Linked DNA regions of Homo sapiens. The protein of the gene in region 1 interacts with the protein of each later gene in a biochemical or structural test. Each region holds a gene or a part of one and is shown in the gene's direction. Other genes may lie near its edges.

What was found.
Region 2: the proteins of UBE2K (region 1) and RLIM form a complex in vitro, tested with the Homo sapiens proteins (2 studies listed by BioGRID).
Region 3: the proteins of UBE2K (region 1) and NEDD4L form a complex in vitro, tested with the Homo sapiens proteins (2 studies listed by BioGRID).

The regions. Positions count from the first base shown.
Region 1 is NC_000004.12:39,693,873-39,701,135, forward strand, and holds the start of UBE2K (ubiquitin-conjugating enzyme E2 K), read left to right. Parts: upstream 1-4,263; 5' UTR 4,264-4,455; coding exon 4,456-4,518; intron 4,519-7,263. UniProt on the Homo sapiens protein: Accepts ubiquitin from the E1 complex and catalyzes its covalent attachment to other proteins. In vitro, in the presence or in the absence of BRCA1-BARD1 E3 ubiquitin-protein ligase complex, catalyzes the synthesis of 'Lys-48'-linked polyubiquitin chains.
Region 2 is NC_000023.11:74,611,610-74,618,852, reverse strand, and holds the start of RLIM (E3 ubiquitin-protein ligase RLIM), read left to right. Parts: upstream 1-4,228; 5' UTR 4,229-4,431; intron 4,432-6,209; exon of another isoform or gene 6,210-6,271; intron 6,272-7,243. UniProt on the Homo sapiens protein: E3 ubiquitin-protein ligase.
Region 3 is NC_000018.10:58,047,215-58,054,240, forward strand, and holds part of NEDD4L (E3 ubiquitin-protein ligase NEDD4-like), read left to right. Parts: intron 1-11; exon of another isoform or gene 12-296; intron 297-7,026. UniProt on the Homo sapiens protein: E3 ubiquitin-protein ligase that mediates the polyubiquitination of lysine and cysteine residues on target proteins and is thereby implicated in the regulation of various signaling pathways including autophagy, innate immunity or DNA repair.

The DNA.
Region 1 (7,263 bases):
GTGGTTTCACCATGCTGGCCAGGCTGGTCTCAAACTCCTGACCCCGTAATCTGCCCACCTTGGCGTCCCAAAGTGCTGGGATTACAGGCATGAGCCACCGCACTTGGCTAGAGATGGGGTCTTTCTGTGATGCCAAGGCTGGTCTAGAATTCCTGGCCTCAGGTGATCCTCCCACCTCCACCACCCAAGTTGCTGAGATCACAAGCATGAGCCATCACAATTGGCCTTGGAATAATTTTAGATTACAAGAAAGTTGAAAAGATAGTACAGAGATTCTTTTTTTTTTTTTTTTTTTTGAGACGGAGTTTCGCTCTTGTTGCCCAGGCTGGAGTGCAATGGTGTGATCTTGGCTCACTGCAACCTTCGCCTCCTGGGTTCAAGCTATTCTTCTGCCTCAGCCTCCTGAGTAGGCGGGATTACAGGCATGCACCACCATGCCTGGCTAATTTTGTATTTTTGGTAGAGACGGGGTTCTCCATGTTGGTCAGGCTGGTCTCGAACTCCTGACCTCAGGTGAGCTGCCTGCCTTGGCCTCCCAAAGTGCTGGGATTACAGGTTTGAGCAATCGCACCCGGCCCTGTACAGAGATTCTTGTATACTCTTTACTCAACTTCCACTAATGTTAACATCATACATTACCATATGGCTATGTCAAAACTGAGAAATTAGCATTGTTATAATACCATTAACTAAATTACAGAATTTATTTATATTTCACTAGGTATGCCCTTTTGGTTCTAGGATCCAATTCAGGATACCACATTGCATTTAGCGTGGTGCTTCTTTTTTTTTTTTTTTTTTTTTTTGAGACAGAGTCTGGCTCTGTTGCCCAGGCTGGAGTGCAGTGGTGCAATCTTGGGTCACTGCAAACTTCGCCTCCTGGGTTTGAGCAATTCTCCTGCCTCAGTCTCCCGAGTAGCTGAGATTACAGGTGCCCGCCACTATGCCCAGTTAATGTTTTGTATTTTTAATAGAGACAGGGTTTCACCATGTTGGCCAGGCTGGTCTCCAACTCCTGACCTCAAGTGATCGGCCCACCTCAGCTTCCCAAAGTGCTGGGATTACAGGTGTGAGCCACCGTGACTGGCCTCGCATGGCGCTTCTTATTCACTTAAAATATATCCTGGAGATTGTTTCATATCAGTTAATATGCAGTTGTCTCATTAGAAGGACTACAGAATGAATTCCTAGAAGTGAAATTGCAGGAGCAGTGATTATGTGCATTTAAAGATTACCAAACCCTCTCCCTTGAAGAAATTACCAGACCCTTGTCCGGTGCAGTGGCTCACACCTTTAATCCCAGCTCTCAGGGAGGCAGAGGCGCGAGGATACCTTGAGCCCAGGAGTTTGAGACCTGCCTGGGCAGTATAGCGAGACCCCGTTCTCCACAGAAAGGGGGGAAAAAAGACAAAAAAAAAAAAAAAAAAAAAAAAGAAAGAAATTACCAGACCTTTTTTTGGAGAGGGGGAATTGTCTTTTTGTGGTTTTTCTCTTGAGACAGAGTCACCCTCTGTCACCCAGGCTGGAGTGCAGTGGTGTGATCTCCGCTCACTGCAACCTCCGCCTCCTGGGTTCAAGCGATTCTCCTGCCTCAACCTCCCAAGTAGTTGGGACTACAGCGCACGCCACCACACCCAGCTAAGTTTTTGTATTTTAGTAGAGTCGGGGGTCTCACCATGTTGCCCAGGCTGGTCTCGAATTCCTGAGCTCAAGCGATCCGCCCGCCTCGGCCTCCCAAAGTGCTGGGATTACAGACATAAATCAGGGCGCCCGGCCTGGACCCTTCTAACTGGTCCCCCTTTGAGTATTCCAAGTTTCTTCACATTCCAAGATTAGGATTGGACAGTGATAATGTAAAGTGCTCAAAAAGTTTTTGCACTCTTCAAAATAATTTTTTTAAGTCTACTGGCACAAATACATATAGCATTGCGTGATTTACATTACACCAATAATTCCTTGTACCATGACCTACGTATATGGTTGAGTCCTCTTAGGACCACTAGGGGGCTCTGCTAGAAGGGTTTATATAATTTATGTCAGCCCACTTAGGGGAAATGTTTTGAGATGATATTTTCGAATTCTGAACTCTTAAAACTTGAGAGAGATAATCTAATCCAGTTTTCTCGTTTCGTAGATGAGGAAATAAAAGCTGGCAAGAGAACTGCCATGGGAGAGAACTGGAATTTTAAAATCTCCTCTTGGTTCCTGGGGCGGGAGTTTAAGAAATTCTCTTTTGCCTTGTGCCCCCACTGATTCGCCTCCATTGGCTATTTCCATGTTTGCCACCACAATTTTAATTACTTTTGGTAAAACCATGTATTTGTGATATTTTTATAATAGATATTTTACTGATTGGCTAGGTGAAGAAAGTGCATGAAGTATAAACTTCTGAAATGACACCCTTATTACTTATTCCAAAATGTTCTATTCAAAATGCTTCTCAGTACCAAACCATTATTACTATGCACCTTAGAAACCACTTTCTTTTTTAAAAATTATTATCTTTAGAGACAGGATTTCACCATAGGGCCCAGGTTGGTCTCAAACTCCTGGGCTCAAGTGATCTGCTCCCCCTCGGCCTTCCAAAGTGCTGGGATTACAGGCGTGAGCCACCGCGCCCGACCAGAAACCACTTTCTTTTGTTTGTTTGTTTTTTGTTTTTTTTTGAGACGGAGTCTCGCTCCGTTGCCCAGACTGGAGTGCAGTGGCGCAATCTCGCTCGCTGCAAGCTCCGCCTCCCGGGTTCACGCCATTCTCCTGCCTCAGCCTCCCGAGTAGCTGGGACTACAGGCGCCCGCCACCACGCCCAGCTATTTTTTTTATATTTTTTTAGTAGAGACGGGGTTTCACCGTGTTAGCCAGGATGGTCTTGATCTCCTGACCTCGTGATCCGCCCGCCTCCGCCTCCCAAAGTGCTGGGATTACAGGCGTGAGCCACCGCACCTGGCCCAGAAACCACTTTCAAACTTACTTTCCACTTAAAATATTTTATACTTTTTGTTTTGTTTTGTTTTGTTTGAGACAGAATCTTGCACTGTGGCCCAGGCTGGAGTGCAGTGGCGCGATCTCGCTCACTGCAACCTCCGACCCCCAGGTTCAAGCGATGTTCCTGCCTCAGCCTCCAGAATAGCTGGGATTACAGGTGCCTGCCACCACACCTGGCTGATTTTTGTATTTTTAGTAGAGATGGGGTTTCACCATGTTGGCCAGACTGGTCTCGGACTCCTGACCTCAAGCGATCCGCCGCGCCAGCAAAAACGTTTTAGTCTTATCTGTACTCATTTACTCATTCAATATTTATTGAGTGCCTACTATCACCAGGCACCTTTGAGGCCTAGGTTTACAGAAATAAGGCTCCCCCTCCCCCACCCCGAGTCCCCTGAAGGGTACTGTAATTGTTTCCATTTCTCCAATTTTCACTTTAATATATGTGAATTTTCACATGCTTCATTCAGTTCAGTGGTTCTCATAATGTGGTCCCGGAACCAGCACCAACAGCAGCAGCAACTGGGAGACTTGTTAGAAGCGCAGTCTTAGGCCCACCCTACACTCTAGGGATGGGCATAGGAGTGTGTGTGTGTGTGTGTGTGTGTGTGTGTGAGAGAGAGAGAGAGAGAGAGAGAGAGATTGTGTGTGTGTGTCAAGCTCGGTATTAAATAGGTCAAAGAGCAACATCTGGCTTCTAAACCCACCCTCAGGCCTCTCCACCGAGTACCTGTCTCAAACCCAATCTGATCCAACAATAACCAGCCTTAATTCAATAATCTGTGCTACCTGAGATGATGGGAATAATCGTGGTACTATAAATGTTGCAGAACAAAAACGACTGCAGTAGATTTTCTGGGGCTACACCAACTGAAAATGGGCCGGACCGAGATCCGGGAGAGCGTTTTCCTGCGCTAGACACGGCGTTCAGCCTCCGGGTTCCGGGTCTAGCTGAGTCAGGGCGGCGTTCCAGCCGAGTGCGGCGTCGGAAACCCGTTCGGTTGCGCCCGAACCTTCGGTCAGAGGCCAGCGCTGGAAGCCCAGACCACAGCACCCGGGTTTAAACAGGAGCGGAGGCGCCGGGAAGGGCCGGGGGGGCCGGCTAGGGCCGGCCAGCTTGGAAGCCGCACCCTCGCGGCCCCAGACGCCGGCAGGGCGGAGCCACGCGGCCGCAGCCCCAGCCGAGACGCGAGCTCGTGGCTCGGGCGTATGGGGGCTCCAACGGGAGCGGCTGCGCCGCCCGGCCGGGTCAACGTCGTGCGCATGCGCCGACCCGGCGCCATTTTGGTGGCCGGGCGCGGAGGTGATTCCACACTGAGGCGAGCGCGGCGGCCGGGGTGGTAGTGGCAGTGTTCGTGTGCTCAGGTCTGAATCGCCGAGGGAGGAGGCGGTGGAGGAAGAGGTGGCGGCGGTGGCGGTGGTCGTAGCGGTGGCGGAGGAGGCGGGTACGAATCAGCTGCGGGCGGAGACATGGCCAACATCGCGGTGCAGCGAATCAAGCGGGAGTTCAAGGAGGTGCTGAAGAGCGAGGAGGTCAGAAATGAACTCCCGGATATCCCCCACCTCTGCCTGGGGCGGGAGGGTCCTCCCAGCTGCGACCCCGATATCCCCGGTAGTCCCTGGGTGGTCCTCCTTGCGGCCGCCCTTCTGCCTGTGAGGAAGCAGCAGTGTTCCCCTCCTCCTTCCGCCGCCTTCCCCTCCCCTCCCAGAGCGCTAGGATGGACGGTCTCGCGGGCGGGTGGTCTGGGGTGGAACATGGTTTGGGGAGGTGATGGACAGGGGGCAACTCCTCGGAGGGATGGAAGCTCACAAGAGAACCCGAGGCGGTGGCCGCAGCTGGAAATGTGGCTGTGGGGTGGGGAGGGAGCAGGCCGAGCCTGAGAAAACCCGGGAAGTGGGTTGGGGGAAGGGGAAAGGTGGTAACTGGATCCCAAGAGCAGTGCTGCTCGAAGGCCCACACTTTTGAGGGTATTCGGGGTTATTGCCTGTCAGGCCTTCACTGTTCTTTTCTTGGGGAAGGAGCAGTGAGTCCTTAGGTATTGATTAAAAAGGAAGGACATTCAGAGTTAGTCCTTCTTAGTTGGGTGTTAGGAGTCAAAGGGAGACATAATAGAATACTGTCTTATTTGGTGGCAGGGGTAAGGGAATTTTCACCTGAGTTAGCAAGTTAATTCCAAATAAGATAATTATCTCTTTTCCACTTAACCCCCAAATTCCTAGGCCTCATCTTTATTGACATCTCAATCTTTTGAGTGGGCAAAGGCAAGGTGTTTGGTGTATTAAAGACATGTAAATATTTTTAGTTAGGAAACAAATAATGGAATGTATGAGTAGCTTATTTCAAAATATTGTTTACAAGTTACAGATCAGAGAGACTGTCTTAAGACAGTGCCTCTGTGACTCGTGTTGTGCCACGAAACTTCATTATGATGTCCCTCATAGTTAACTTGATTCTTACTTTTGAAAAGCAGACCTATTAAAAATGTGAAATTTCACCAGATTAATACATTGTTTCATCTCCTTATTGAGATTTATCACGACTTAACAGATTTTCAAAAAAGTTGCCTCCCGTTGCTCTTAAGTCCTGCAGAATTTAGATACATTTGTACTACGTTTATTTATGTAAGATATTCACAGTGCTCTAGTAATTTGACTCAAAATTATGCAAGTATTAGTACAGTTTCTCATACCAAGATCAACAAGAATGCCAGATTGTCTTCCCCACATGAATTAAACAAAAAGTAATACAGAAAATGATTATTTTCAAGATTCACATACCATTATTGAATATATCATTGCTATTTGTGTTTTTCTTTTACAGTTAGTACTTTAATAGTGTCAATAATAATTTGTGAAATTCAGCATTCTAAGTATGTGATGAGTATACATGGAGAAAAAATTATTTAAAATTCAAAAATGACAACAGACTTATTGAAAGTAGTATATAAGTCATGGTCGGTTTTACAGAGCATGTGTATGAACTCTGACCTCTATGTTTGTTCATATGCCAAAACTCTGAATGGAAGGATGACTTTGTATTTTGTGGTACAATGCAGAAATAGAGTCATAAGTGTCTGTACTGATACAATGAAACAGCAATTTTAACTTATTTAATATGAAAATGTATTCCAGGTTAGTTGACATATATACTCCTAATGAAAGCAGTTGTTGTTGCCAACAACTGAAAACATTTCTTGTTTAATAAGGTTGTACAAGCCTGAAACTTAATAGACTTTTAATGCTTTATTTTCTGTTACTTACGGTAACAGAAACAGTAAGTTACTGCTCTGGTAATTAATGTGGTCTCTTTGCTTTTTATGAGCTGACTTTTCACCGTGGTATTCTTAGTACTAAGTTGAAGATTACCAGAAATACTTGTATTGCTCTCTAGTAATGCATATTAAAAAAACACTGCTCTTTATACGTAAGGGATGTTGAAGCCTTACTTCAGATAAGCATCAAAAGTGTTTCAGAAGAAGAAAACAGGAAATGCAAACAGACAGGTTTTTTGTTGTTTTTGTTGTTTGTTTGTTTTGTTTTGTTTTGTTTAGAACAGTACCTGTATAAATATGGAAGGAAACTTCTGGGAAAATAAGTTGGAAAGAACATTTAGGAAAGGGTCACATCATTTAATCTTGGAATAAATATAACCAATAAATAGCTTATTTTCACCAGTATTTTTTGATATTTTAGTAGCCCCAGTTCTATAAGTGTATTGTTATTTTCAACTCATTGAAGACTTGTAGTATAGTCCATGTGTTTCCTTTTTAAGGGTGTAAATACAGTCTTTTGAATGGCTGATCAAATAAATGTTTCATCATGTCACTTTTTTGGTAAATCAGCACTTTACCGAAGTTTATTTCATGTGTTTGTATGCTTGTGTTTACTAAGAACACTGGTTGATTTAAGGACTTTTTGGGGTGGCCTTATAAGAGCCTTTGTAAAGATAGCTGACGCTTACTGGATTCTGGTTATGAGAGATTATAAGTGGCCGTTCTTAGAGTGTGTTAAAATACAGCCAACAAGATAAATGTGAAAAAGCAAGGTGCAGAATAGTGTGGAAGAGGCCATTTGTGTCAAAAAGAAGGGCATGTGTGTATTTGCCTGTATGGGTAAAAGGTTTCATGAGAAATTGGTAAAATTGATTGCTTTCTGTGTAGAGAGTTGGGTGTCTGGGGTATAGATATTTTTTGAATTTTGTGTCATACAAATGTGATTTACTTAAAGGCATCATTTGGCCTCTTTCCCTTAAGACAGTGTTTGGAAATTTGTCAGATG
Region 2 (7,243 bases), on another chromosome or scaffold:
TTTCCAGCTCTAGGTACTTATTTTTAATGCTACATGGTAGTCTATTATGTGGTTATACTATAACTAATTGTTGTTGGATGGTTATTTTTTCTGATTTGTCAATATTTCGATGTTATAAACCACACTGTAATTAGCATCTTTGCACATTCATTACATACATATTTGCAAATTTGTCCACTTCTTTCCTTAAAATAAATTTCTGTACCTGGACATGTTTGTCAAATACTATGAATATGAGTCTTTTGAAACACATTACCAAATTGCCTTAAGAAAACTGGGAGTGGTGGCTCATGCCTGTAATCCCAGCACTTTGGGAGGCTGAGGTGGGCGGATCACAAGGTCAAGAGATCGAGACCATCCTATCCAACATGGCGAAAATCCGTCTCTAATAAAACTACAAAAATTAGCTGGGTGTGGTGGCGCACGCCTGTAATCCCAGCTACTCGGGGGGCTGAGGCAGGAGAATTGCTTGCACCCAGGAGGTGGAGGTTGCGGTGAGCCGACATTGCGCCACTGCACTCCAGCCTGGTGACAGAGTGAGACTCTGTCTCAAAAAAAAAAAAAAAAAGAAAACTGATATCAATTTGTCCCACTGGCAATACAAATGTGCCCATTTCATAGGATCTTCATCAACAATTAATATTATCGATTTTTTATCCTTGACATTCTAACAGGCAAAAAAAGGAACTTTTTAAAAAATTTTTTAGTTCATAAAATTTTTCTGTTTTGTTTTTTTGAGACAGAGTTTCACTCTTGTTGCCCAGGCTGGAGTGCAATGTCGCAATCTCGGCTCACTGCAACCTCTGCCTCCCGGTTCAAGCGATTCTCCTGCCTCAGCCTCCCGAGTAGCTGGGATTATAGGTGCCCACCACCACGCCCAACTAATTTTTTTTCTGAAGTTTTAGTAGATACGGGGTTTCACCATGTTGGCCAGGCTGGTCTCAAACTCCTGACCTCAGGCAATCCACCCGCCTCAGCCTCCCAAAGTGCTGGGATTACAGGCGTGAGCCACCGAACCCAGCTATTGTTTTTTAATTATTATGGATACATAATAGTTGTACCTCATTGTTTTTATTTTTGATTAATTACTAGTGAGGCTGAATATATTTTCAAGTACAAGGTTATTTACTAACAAGAAAAAAAGAATATATTGTCATATGCTTATCAGCCACGTGTTTTATCCTTTTATGAATTATCCATTCATGTTCCTTGCACATTTTGAAATGGAGGTATTTATCTCTTTTTTTTTTTTTTTTTTTTTTGAGATGCAGTCTTGCTGTTACCCAGGCTGGAGTGCAGTGGCATGATCTCGGCTCACTCCAACCTCTGCCTCCCGGGTTCAATCAATTCCTTTTCCTCAGCCTCCCAAGTAGCTGGGACTACAGGAGTGAGTACGCCACCACGCCCAGCTAATTTTTGTATTTTTTTTAGTAGAGACGGGGTTTCACCATATTGGCCAGGCTGGTCTTGATCTCCTGACCTTGTGATCCGCCTGCCTTGGCCTCCCAAAGTGCTGGGATTACAGGTGTGAGCCCCTGCGCCCGGCCGGTATTTATCTTTTTAAAAATCAATGTTTAACAACTCTTTATAGGCTGATATTAGCCATATGTGTTTATCACATATGTAACATTTTTGCTAGTGTTTCGTCTTTTTATTAAGTAAAGATATTACCCCTTGGCTCTAATATGTCATTATGAAATGATTTTTTTCAATTTATCATTTGTCTTTTAACTTTACCAACCTTGTATTTTGACATTTAGAAGGTTTACTTTTATTTATGAAGTTGTACTTATTAGTCTTTCCCATTATGGATTTTGTGTTGTATTTCAAAAGTGCTTCTGCATCCCCAAGGCTATAGAAATATTAACCTAGGCCTGGACAGTGGCTCACGCCTGTAATCCCAACACTTTGGGAGGCCCAGGCAGGCGGATCATGAAGTCAGGAGTTGGAGACCAGGCTGCCCAACATGGTGAAACCTCATCTCTACTAAAAATACAAAAATTAGCCAGGCGTGGTGGTGCATGCCTGCAATCCCAGCTACTGGGGAGGCTGAGGTAGGAGAATCGCTTGAACCCAGGAGACGGAGGTTGCAGTGAGCTGAGATCATGCCACTGGACTCCAGCCTGGGCAACAAAGCAAGACTCCATCAAAAAAAAAAAAGAAAGAAAGAAGGAAGGAAGGAAGGAAGGAAGGAAGGAAGGAAGGAAGGAAGGAAGGAAGAAAGGACAGAAATAGTAACCTGTATTTTCTTCCACTTCTTTTATGATTTTATATTTTAGATTAAGCCACATAAGCCTCAAGAATACGTTAAGGAGTGGCTAATGTTATTGCCATAATCAGAATATCAGGCTTAATGGCAATTGCAGGCTACTGAAGAATTCCTTTTACACGTTCTAGGTAATCGTTCTAGTACATGATTATGTAAAATAAGACAAAAACCTGAGTAGAGACACAGCGCCTAAATCATGTATCCCTCTGCCAAAAATGACAATATCAATGAGTCTTCTAGGGAGTTGGGCAGGTAAGTATGAGGGATATTGTTTTAACTGCTTGGAGTGAAATACTTATATTCCAGGCTGATATAACATCCATCATGGTGAGGGGGTAATTCTCCCAAAGTATTTTGAGGGCTTACTATGTGGTCGCTGGGGACACAACAGTGAACAAAACAGAGAGGTTTACTGCTCAGAAAGGGTGAAGTAAACAAACAAATAAATAACTTACTTTCAGATTAAGTGTTTTACAAGAAAAGTAAGCAGGTAAGGAGATGGGAGAAGTCGTTATTACTTTTTTCTTTTTTTTTTTTTCCTCAGACCTTTTTCCGCCTTCAGGAAGAAGTTATTTTAGGTAGGGTGGTCAGGGAAGGCTTCTCTAGGAAGTTAATAATTGCGAGGCTTGGATGATGAAAGCAAAGATATGAAAGTAAAATATTCCAGCAAAGGTAAAGTAGTTGAAGTAGGAAGAAGTTAGCTTTGTTGGAAAAACCGTAACAAAGCCAGCATAGCTGGCATGCTATTGGAAAACAGAAAAATTGGGAAAAGGAAAAGAATCTAAAAACTTGGGTAAGGTTTTCCTTTAACTGTGACAATGGGAGTGGCATGCTGTGTGGCGAGTTCCCTCAATTCTTTCAGGCATTACTACCTAAGAAAGGCCTTCTTTAACTGCCCTTTTACAAATCCCAACGTTATCAGATTTTCCCACCCTTTTACAATCACCGCCCTTTTTCGAATACTTTAGAGTTAATGCCTCAAAGTTATCAGTCTTTTAAACATCACGAATCCGTTTGTCCCTACAAGGAACTCTTCTGTCCCCCTTCCTTGATTTTTCTCCTTGGCATTTATCACTAACATGATATGTATTTATGTTTGATTTTTTCTAAATTATTGTCCCTGGCCCCTATAAAGACTCAAGAGAACTGGGATTTTGATCTGTTTTCTTTTTTTTTTTTTTTTTTTTTTTGAGACACAGCCTTGCTCTGTCACCCAGGCTAGAGTGCAGTGGCGAGATCCCGGCTCACTGCAATCTTCGCCTCCTGGGTTCAGCTATTCTCCTGCCTCAGCCTCCCGATTAGCAGAGATTACAGGCGCCCGCCACCACGCCCGGCTAATTTTCGTATTTTTAGTAGAGACTGGGTTTCACCATGTTGGCCAGGCTGGTCTCGAACTCCTGACCTCAGGTGATCCGCCCGCTTCGGCTTCCCAAAGTGCTGGGATTACAGGCGTGAGCCACCGAACGTGGCCTGTTTTCTTTCTTAATTTTGGTCTATTTTAATTTCCTAAGCAGCTACAATGGTGCTTGACATGCAGTTGGCACTGTGTAAATACATGTTGAATAAAACGCAGGCTACTTTTTGAACTGGTCTGCACGGATTGTGTGAACTGATGTGATGTCAGGGTAGACTAATATCACATTTCTCTCTCTCTGAAAATGTCTTCAAGCAGTCAGACCGTGACGTCCTTCAGTTTTCAAAATGGGAAAGCGAAGGTTCCCACAATTCTCAGAACGCAAATTTCTCGCCACAATTCAAAATGGCGGAGGAGGGTGGGGCCTGTCACATGGTGGGCGTCATAACAGCTTTCCTTTTCCAAACCGCCGCCCGCCTTGCCGCGTCGTCTGCCGTCCCCCTCCTCCTCCCGCGGAGCCTTTTCGAGGAATCGACTGGGATTGGCTAATAGGCTGGGAGTGGGGCTGCGGTGCCGGGACGCGGCATCATCACTTCCTGTTGTGGGCAGTCGTTTCCTGTCGCTGCTTGGTAACAATGGGGAAGATAATGGCTGCCTGAGCAACGTCTCCGAGCAGGCGCTGGGCTAGAGGCGGGTCTCAACCAGCTACTCATTGGAGGCGGGCTTGAGAGCGGCGGCCAGGGAGGTGCGGAGCAGCCTCGGCGGCGGCGGCCGAACCAACCGAGTCGGATCCTGACCCTAAAACCTAGTAAGTGAAGACTTGGGAATCCTGTGAGAAATGATGTAGAGCGAGAGGAAGACAGCGGAGCCGCGGCTGCCGCGTTCTCTCAAAATGGCCCGAGTGACGCGTCGTGGCAGAGGCTCAGCGCCGCCTCCGGACCCCAGGCCCGTTGCTGCGGGGGGCTCCGTGGCGTAGTCGCCGCTGCCATTTTAGTTGAGTGGTATAGTCGACAGGCTCTTTGAAGGGGAAGGAGGTGGGTAGTACTTCCTCTCGGTGGCCGCGCGAGCTGCAGCCCAGGCCCTCCGGAGCCTTAGGAAATCGGGGGAGGCAGTTTTTGAGTTTTGGCCTCAGGCGTCAGAATCTTAGAACGTCTCAGGCTTTTTCTTCTCTGTTCTCTGGAGGCTTCCCTGACCTCCCCGCGTTTTCCATGGCGGGCTTGGGTTTGGGAAAAGGGAAGTAAAAAATCAGGCTGCCCCAAGTGAGATGCTGGCAACTCTTGGGCCTTTAGATTTCCAAAACCTCATTTTGAGCCCTTCTGCAGGGTATTACCAATTAGGCGCCCCCTGGGGCCGCGATGACATCTTCCCTGAGGATCTGAGGCAAATGTGGTTTACTCCCTTGCTCGAATAACCCTGGCATATCCTTTGCCAGGTATCACTGGAAGGATCCCCCCGCAAAAGAGAGGGAAAAGCCGTTAGGTGTTTGTTGTGTTCTCCTGGATAAGGGATGGAATTGGGCCAAATTTTCAAGTTAATTTGTGTTTAATCCACCAACAACTCAATCCCTCCCCCATTAAAAAAAAAAAAAAAAGCCTAGGGGGGTCTCTGCTTCTGCAGACGGTACCTGCCACGCATGCCATAGCTTAGTAACTAGTATTAACCGGTTGGGCTTCTGCTTCCTGAATACTCGGTCCCTTTTTCCCTTATGCTGATTAATTTCAAGATGGAGGAGACAGCCACGTTCCTTCCCTAGACAGTTTCACCATACTTATTCCACAGGTTAGTCTGGGAATCTGAGGCCTAGCAGTCTTGTTATTGAGGTCATTTTTTTTTTCATTTTGGGGCAAGAGGAAGCAGTTGTATCAGATTGTCATCTTCCATTTGCAAGACCCCACAATGATTTTTTGCCAGAAGTAAGGAGCCCGCATTTCCTGAATCAGAATTAACCGCAGTGTTTTGGACTGATTGAAAGGGGGAAGAAATAATAAACCTACTGCTACTAATCATTTCTTTCATTCTTCGTGATTATAGACAGAGTAACTACTTATCACCCCATTAAGTACATTGTATCTTCCCTGGAGGACTGGCACAATTATAACCCCTCCCCCCCCATGACTTTTCTAAACTGTAGAAATATAGCTTAGGTAGCTAGAAAGACCAATCCACTTTTTAAAACTTGATTTTAGGACACACTCCACTTACTGAAAAATGTTACAAAGATTTTTTTAGTCCATGATGTTCTGATGAATTTTAATACTTTAGTTCCTACCTTAGGCTAGTGTAATGTGCCAGATAAGTCCTTGAAAGTGACTATCAGAATCTGAAAATAATTACTGGTCTGATAAGGAAAGGCTTATTTTAAGCAAGCTTATAATAAAACGTAAATTGTCTCTCAGTCTTAGAAGACATCTTTTATCTAACTCCTGGTCCCCTCTGACCTTCTTGCTCTCCCCAAATGCCCTAATACTAATATTGAATTAGGTTGGGTTATGGTGTGTCTGTATTTTTTTTTTTAGGTTGTGTCTAATTCAAAGAAAATGTGTATCTTTTTAAAGAGGAAGAATAATGGATTCTTTTTTTTTCTAGAGCAGAGTGAAGAAAACTAAAATCCAGTTTATTGTATTTCAATACTATGTCATAACAGTCAGGTAATTTATTTTTTGTTGCGTCTCCTGATGATTTATGTGTAGAATGCATGTTTACAAATATTTATTGTTCTATTTTGCAGGCCCTGTAATTGGATGGGCTCATTGATAGATGTTAGATGGTGTTGGGTATTCTTCATGATAAGAATGGGTACTTTTCACTGGGAATTAAAAGGGTAATGTTTCTGGATACCTGGAACTCACCAGTGCTTTATCTGTGAATTTGACTCTTTAAAATAATGTCTGAAGTTTACCAATACCTGTATAGAACAACAACAACAAAAAATTTGTTGTCTTATATCATTGTTGGAATGGCATGAGTATAAGTAAAATAACATTTAAATGTTCATTGGATAACTAAATGAAATATCAGAATAGCTTACGAGAGTATAATTTTACGTTACTTTGTGTGTGGTGGTTGATTTTTTTCCTTTAAGATTCAAAAATTCATAATTGATACATGATACTTTTAATTGATATTGACTCCTTTCATTATTATTATCATCATCATTAGGGTAACCACATAATTTATTGCCTAACCAAGACACTTTTAAGAACAAAAGGAACATTAATAATTCCTGGACAGCAGGTGCAAACCTTGATTGTCCCCGACAAACTGGGATGGATACTTAGCCTAAATTCATAACCAACTTCTGCTGAAGGCCTGTGGTGCTAGGCCATGTGCTTTATATGCATTATTTTATAATTCTCACAACAGAGCCTCATGAGAATGTTAACTTTTATAGAGGAAACCAAAAACCCAAAGAGGTTAAGTATAATTTGTCCTCAGTTAAATAGCTTTAAGTGGTGGAGCCCTCATTTTATCCCAGGCCTGTCTGACGTTATACTTCTGGGTTTGATTGCTGTCTAATTAGATAGGAAATGCAATGAAAATGAAAGGTTGTAGTAAAAAGTCTGTAGGTTATGTTGCATCAGAAACTTTTGTTAATACTTAAAGGTTATCCAGCAATCCCC
Region 3 (7,026 bases), on another chromosome or scaffold:
CATATGAAGATATTTTGACCGCTATTTAGAAGAGTGACCTCATAAATCTTTTAGCAAAGTAGACACACATACCTACCACATTTCTTAAAAGTAGATTCGTATTTTGATTTGAGATTGTTGAAAAGCATGGTATGTTTGGAGTGCACTTAGTTATGTCCCATCTCATAAAGACTGTTGAGCTCTCTGCACTGCTGATGATGAAGCATTGCATGAACCCAGAAAACGGGGATGCCAAAGCACAGGGCTTAGGTGCTGTTCCTTGCGTCATCAGCAGAGGTCTGTCCACTTTGTAGAAGGTAAGGGGTTGAGATGTGGGCTTTGCTTGTGTGAATGTATGTGCTGTTTAATTTTTTCTGTGTGTTTCGGGCGGAGGTTTCTCTGGTGAGTTATAATTCATATTTACCCTGATTTAAGTCATGTCACTTTAGGTAGCCAGATTCAAAACCATCAGATGAAGGACTTTTGGTGTTAGAGGGATTAGCAGTTTAACAAAACTTCTGATTCATGGCCCAAGATCAGATTTGGTTTGGAATCAGAACACTTTGGACTAGTTTCTGCATCTGGCTTGAGTCCTTGTGGATTTCTTGTTTTATTTCTTTATTTTTGGCAATCTGTAGTGCATTTTGGCATAGTTTACTTATGAATGTTACCGCTAACTTTCTGAAATCTTTTATTCCATTTTAGAAAGGTATCATTTATTGAAAAGATTTTTCTACTGAACAAAATACTGGGATTGAATGGCAGCTTCTTATCACATTAGATATGACATTAAGTAATTTCGTTAGTAGTTAAAATGAAGCAAATGGCATAGAAATGAAGGCCAGGCTGACATAGGATAAATGGCACCTTCTCTCCTTATCCTGTACAAACACGGATAGTTGGCTACTTTTGAATGCCTCTTCTATACCAATGGTAAAAATCCGGCTTAATTGGGGCCACATTCTAGCCTAGTCACAATCAGTGGCTTGCATTATGTCCTTTGAGATGTGGCAGATCTGCTTATAGGTGCCAGTCACCACGGCTCCCTGCTGGCTTGGGGGTCTTTCTACTCATTTACATATAATTATCTACTTCTTAATCAACCATTAAGGTTAACTTTTGGCATGGATCCTGTATGCTTTTCAGTTTAAGATGCTGTCACTTTTAAGATGCGCCATGAGAGCAAAGTGCTAAGCCTTGTGCACATACTATGTCATTTAGTTCTCATGAGAACTGTGTGAGGTAGGCTGTGATTTACAGATGAGGAATGAAAGCTCAAAGAGGTTACGTGACCTGCATAAGGACACAAAACAAGTTAAGTTATGGAGCCAGCTATTTTGAATAGAAAGGCCTAGTTTTTAACATGCTGAATATCCTCCCCTTCTGACAAATGCCTTGAAAGGTCTTACTATCTAGATTATTTAAGATAATGTAAGAGAAATAAACACCACTGGTTGCAAACTGATGGCTGCTGGGCCCGATTTGACCAGGAACCCTGCTTAATGTGGTCTCTAGAGTGTTTTAAAGCTTGGAAATTTCATGAAAATGGTAAAAATCTGGCTTAATTGGGGCCACATTCTAACCTAGTTACAGTCAGTGGCTGGCATTATGTCCTTTGAGATGTGGCAGCTAGTTGTGCTATGGTTGCAGTCACCACTACTTTCTGTTGTCTTAGGGGTCTTTCTACTTGTTTACATATAATTATCCACTTCATAACAAACCTTTAAGGCTAACCTTTGGCGTGGATGCCATATTTCTTTCACTTTAGTGTGCTGTCACTTTTAAGATATGCCATTATTTCATGTACCACGAAGAAAAAATTGCTGTCAAGTTATGACATACTGTCCATCTTATGAAGCATCCTTATTTCAGAGAAGTTGAAATATGAGAAAAAGGATATTTTAGAATTGATGAATTACAGTGACTAGAAACCTGGGAAAACTCCATGCCATCAGTTTCAATATCCCCAATCATTCAGTACTTTTAAGTCAACGAGTAGTCAGATTTCTGCTTTTCTGTGTTTGAGGAAAGTGCTAGAAAAAGAGAAGTGCTCTTAAATAGGCATTAGCACAGAAGGAACTGGGGGCCTAGATCATAGCCAACTGGATGGCCGTCTGTAAGTGATTAAGAATAGTTGTTAGTTTTTAAAAAGTGGCCTGTGTGTATTTTCAAGAGATTACTTGGGAAACCCTATGTGCCATCTTTGCAGCTGTGCAAAACGGTGAGGACAAGATTGCTTTCAAAAATTGTGGTTTAGATTTTGCTTGGATCTCAAGGTGAATGCTGACAGGCCGTTTTCTGAAGAGAGAGAAGGCTTGCCCAGTCATGCCAAGTCCAAGTGCCTGTGTCGGGCCTAGATGCTGGATGGTAGACTGTATACCCAGGACATATAGGTAATGTTTGAGAAACAAATGTTAAAAGGACCTAGTTTTCATGGTGACATTTAAAATCAGTTTTTAAAATTCATGAATATAACATGTTGTTTTAAAATTTGATTATAGGGACCGGGTGCAGTGATCACTCCTGTAATCCTAGCATTTTGGGAGGCCGAGGCAGGAGAATCACTTGAGTTCAGGAGTTTGAGGCCAGGCTGGGCAACGTGGTGAAACCCCGTCTCTACAAAAAATAGAAAAGTTAGCCAAACATGGCGGCACGTGCCTGTAGTCCCAGCTACTTGGGAGGCTGAGGTGGAAGGATCACTTAAACCTGGAGGCAGAGGTTGCAGTGAGCCAAGATCATGCCACTGCACTCTAGCCTGGGCGACAGAGTGAGACCCTGTCTCCAAAAAAAAAAAAAAAAAAAAAAAGACTAATGAATAGAATTTATTTTCTTCAATGATGTAGTGTCTGTGGAATTTGTAGACATTGACATTTGAATTTTCATTATATTTAGTTTTATTAAATCAGAATGTTATGATTGTTTATTTCATTATTGAACATCAGTTTCCTTAATTTAAGGAATAAAAATAATTTTGCTCAGGCCAGACATAGTGGCTCACATCTGTAATCCCAGCACGTTGGAGGCCAAGGCTGGTGGATCACTTGAGGTCAGGAGTTTGAGACCAGCCCAGCCAACATGGTGAAACCCTGTCTCTACAAAATAAATAAATAAATAAATGAAAAAAAAATCAGCTGGGTGTGGTGGTGGACACCTGTAATCCCAGCTACTCTGGAGGCTGAGGCAGGAGAATAGCTTGAACCCTGAAGGCAGAGATTGCAGTGAGCCGAGATCGCACCACTGCACTCCAGACTGGGTGACAGAGTGAGACTCTGTCACAATAATAACAGGCTGGGGCAGTGGCTCATGCCCGTAATCCCAGCACTTTGGGAGGCCGAGGCTGGAGGATCACCTGAGGTCAGGAGTTTGAGACCAGCCTGGCCAACATGGTGAAACTCCGTCTTTACTAAAAATACAAAAATTAGCTGGGCTTGGTGGCAGGCAACTGTAATCCCAGTTACTCGGGAGGCTGAGGCAGGAGAATTGCTTGAACCTGGGAGGCAGAGGTTGCAGTGAGACAAGTTCGGGCCATTGTGCTCCAGCCTGGGCAACAAGAGCAAAACTAAAAATAAAAAATAAAAAAAGAATAGTAATAGTTTTGCTTAAAGGGTGAGGACAGTGACAAATGGTGATCCTCAGATGACTGTAGTTTCTTTACCATTACAGAATGCAATTCAAATGAAAACCATTGCATGGTACTCAGGCATTTCTTCAATGCAGTGTGTGCCCACATCACCAGGAAGCTTACTTGGGAAAGTTTGTTTTGGGATTCTGGAGTACCTCAATATATCTGGTATATTTTCCCAAGAAAAGTGAATAATCTTGGGGGGCCGAGGTGGACAGATTGCTTGAGCCCAGGAGTTTGACACCAGCCTGGGCAATGTGGTGAAACCCCACCTCTACAAAAAATACAAAAACTTAGTTGCGTGTTGTGGCACGCACCTGTGGTCCTGGCTGCTGGGGAGGCTGAGGTGGGAGGATGGCTTGAGCCTGGGAGGTTGAGGCTGCAGTGAGCCATGATCATGCCACTGCACTCCAGCCTGGGTGACAGAGCAAGACACTGTCTCAGAAAACAAAGGCAAACAAACAAAGATCACCCCAAAGAAGAACTCCCAACATATTAAAAGTCATTGAGTTTTGTACCCTTCAAATGGATGAATTGTGTTGTGTATGAATTACATCTGAATAAAACTGTTTAAAAATATTAAGAATGATTGAGTGTGACATTATTGCAGCAGTACATTGGAGTTTCTGCTAAATTACTTTTGCATTCATTTCAAAAGGAAGCAACTATGCCCATTGCTAATTTAATAACCTGTTTGCTTGTGCGGTGTTTAAAATGGCATCATGAAAACATGGCAATGTGTGATAGATTAAGAGCCAATTAAATTTTTTATTTTGAGTTACAAGATCTGCATTAAACAGATTTTATTGTTGCCCTTGAATTTCCAGTCTTAGATGAGTAGCAGCAGTGAAAAAAAGAGATCCTAACTTAAGAGTTTTCAAGCTTTTTGATGTTGCAGGTATTTGAATAAGTGGGTCTGTCTTACTGAAATATTTGTTAATTAGCGATAAAGCAAACTATATGTTGATCTTTTGGTAGTCCATGCTAAGGAGGATTAGAATAATATATAAATAATATAATGGTAATAAGTATCAGGGCAGGAGGATTAAAGAAGGGTGGAAGAAGTGTGACAAAATGTTACTTTCTGTTTTTACATTGTTTCTCTTCCAGGTCACAACTGTATTTCAAATGTATTTCATTTTCAGACTATAGGTGGCAATGTTTGTGCTGTTCACTGTTTAATGTTACTGTTGGCTCGGGTGTTGCTTGTTGCTGGAATATGGAAATGATAGCATAATTTAGAGTTGAGAATAAAAAAAACTAGATTTAGAAAACTAGAAACTAGATTTAGATTTAGTAGAGACTTTCTAAATAGTCCTAGTTCTGCTGTGTGGACCCTTCTGTAACTTTCTGTTACTCTGAGAAGGAGCTGATAATTATCACAACTACTGGTGTTTGATTAGCAGAGACATTCTTGATTCCTGATGCAAGACCGTGGCTGAAGTTGTAGCAGGGCGTTTGGTGGTTGGCGATGTAAAGATCTGGGCCTCTTGTTTCATGAATAATAGAATCTCACTATGATTGTAATATTTTGTTTTGAACTGGAGTGCTGATTATTGTAATCCCTTTAGGTGAGAAAAGCCTTATTATATAAGTGTATCTGGGGTAACTAGCTTAAATTTGACACTCCAGTCAACTTTTTGTCCCTGACTTCAGTCCTGCATTGATTCAAAACGCACCAAGTTAAATGTCAAGGCTCTCAGATTCCCTTGCTGTCATCAAATTCAGTGTTTGGTGACTTCTTGGCAGGCAGACATCTACCAAGAGATTTTGTATTCTTTTTATACCTCCTATTCACCAAAAGAAAAGGGCCATTCAAAAGTGAGTTTTTCTTTTTTTTTTTTTTTAAGTTTAAAAAGCTATGATGTGGCCACCCATGGTGGCTCATGCCTATAATCCTAGCACTTTGGGAGGCCAGGGCAGGCAGATCACTTCAGGCCAGGAGTTCAAGACCAGCCTGACCAACATGGCAAAACCCCGTTTCTACTAAAAATACAAAAATTAGCTGGGCGTCGTGGCGTGCCCCTGTAATCCCAGCTACTTGGGAGGCTGAAGCAGGAGAATCGCTTGAACCTGGGAGATGGAGGTTGTGGTGAGCTGAGATTGCAACTCTGCACTCCACCCTGGGTGACAGAGTGAGACTTTGTCTCAAAAAAAAGCTGTGATGTGAAACCTGTTCTGTGAAGGTGGAACTTGGAAAGGCTTGTAAGGATGGTGGTCCCATGAAGAGGATGAACAAACCAAGGGAACTGTCCTCTTGCTGGTTTGGGTGATGTCCCATCACCTGTCACTTTGTTTGTTTGGGCTGCAGTGGACCAATGGTTTCCCAGGCACACTGAAGTGACATGTAGATGGATTGCTTGAGTGGCTCCGGCATGTTTCCATCTCCTGTCTACCAGGCAGAGACCGTGTTCCCTGTTTTGAGGGGATCCAGAAGTGCAGTGACAAGGGCCTGATTTGCATCTCCAGCTCCTGGTCTTGCCTGTGTTAACAATTTTTTTTTTTTCTTTCCAGATGGAGTCTCACTCTGTCGCCCAGGCTGGAGTGCAGTGGTGCAATCTCGGCTCACTGCAAGCTCTGCCTCCCGGGTTCACGCCATTCGCCTGCCTCAGCCTCCCAAGTAGCTGGGACTACAGGTGCCCACCACCACGCCCGGCTAATTTTTTTGTATTTTTAGTAGAGACGGGGTTTCACCATGTTAGGCAGGATGGTCTCGAACTCCTGACCTTGTGATCCACCTGCCTCGGCCTCCCAAAGTGCTGGGATTACAGGCATGAGCCACCGTGCCCGGCCAACAATTTTTACATTCTAATTAATTTCCAGTTTCCAACCTGACTCAAGGTTTAGCTCTTCGTCTCTTGGGTGCAGTTTTGGATCATGTCTTATAATGTATATTTAAAAGTGTGTTGTAAAGCTGGAATTCCCATTGTGGGTAAATGCTGAGATTGTTGTAATACTGAGAAGTGCACTTGGGAACCATGGCCAACACTGCCCTAGCTGACCGGAGGTTGCACTGAGTTGTCCCCTTTGAACATCTGTTATGAATGAATGTTGGAAAATGCAAAGCCAATCATTTCTTTTACCTGACCTATGTGATGTTAAGTTTTAGTTTTATGTTTTGGCAAGTGAGTGTTGGATGTCACTAATGTGAGGAGGCCGGTGAGGGCAGACTTTGGGTCAGAGGTAATGTAGGAGATGAAGACCCTTTCTATTAATTTTTCTTGTTTAATTGAAGATGTTCGTGTTGAATGGGTTTTATTTACATGTATAAGTTCTTTTTTTCTTAATGCTGGAAGTTACTTTGGTTTTTCAGAAAATGCAAGTAACCCTAATCTATTTAGAGAATTACTTTGCTTAGTAAGCACTCAGTACTATTTAGTAATGGGGAAAAAATGTGTTTGTGTCCCACAGCGTGACAGGCTCCA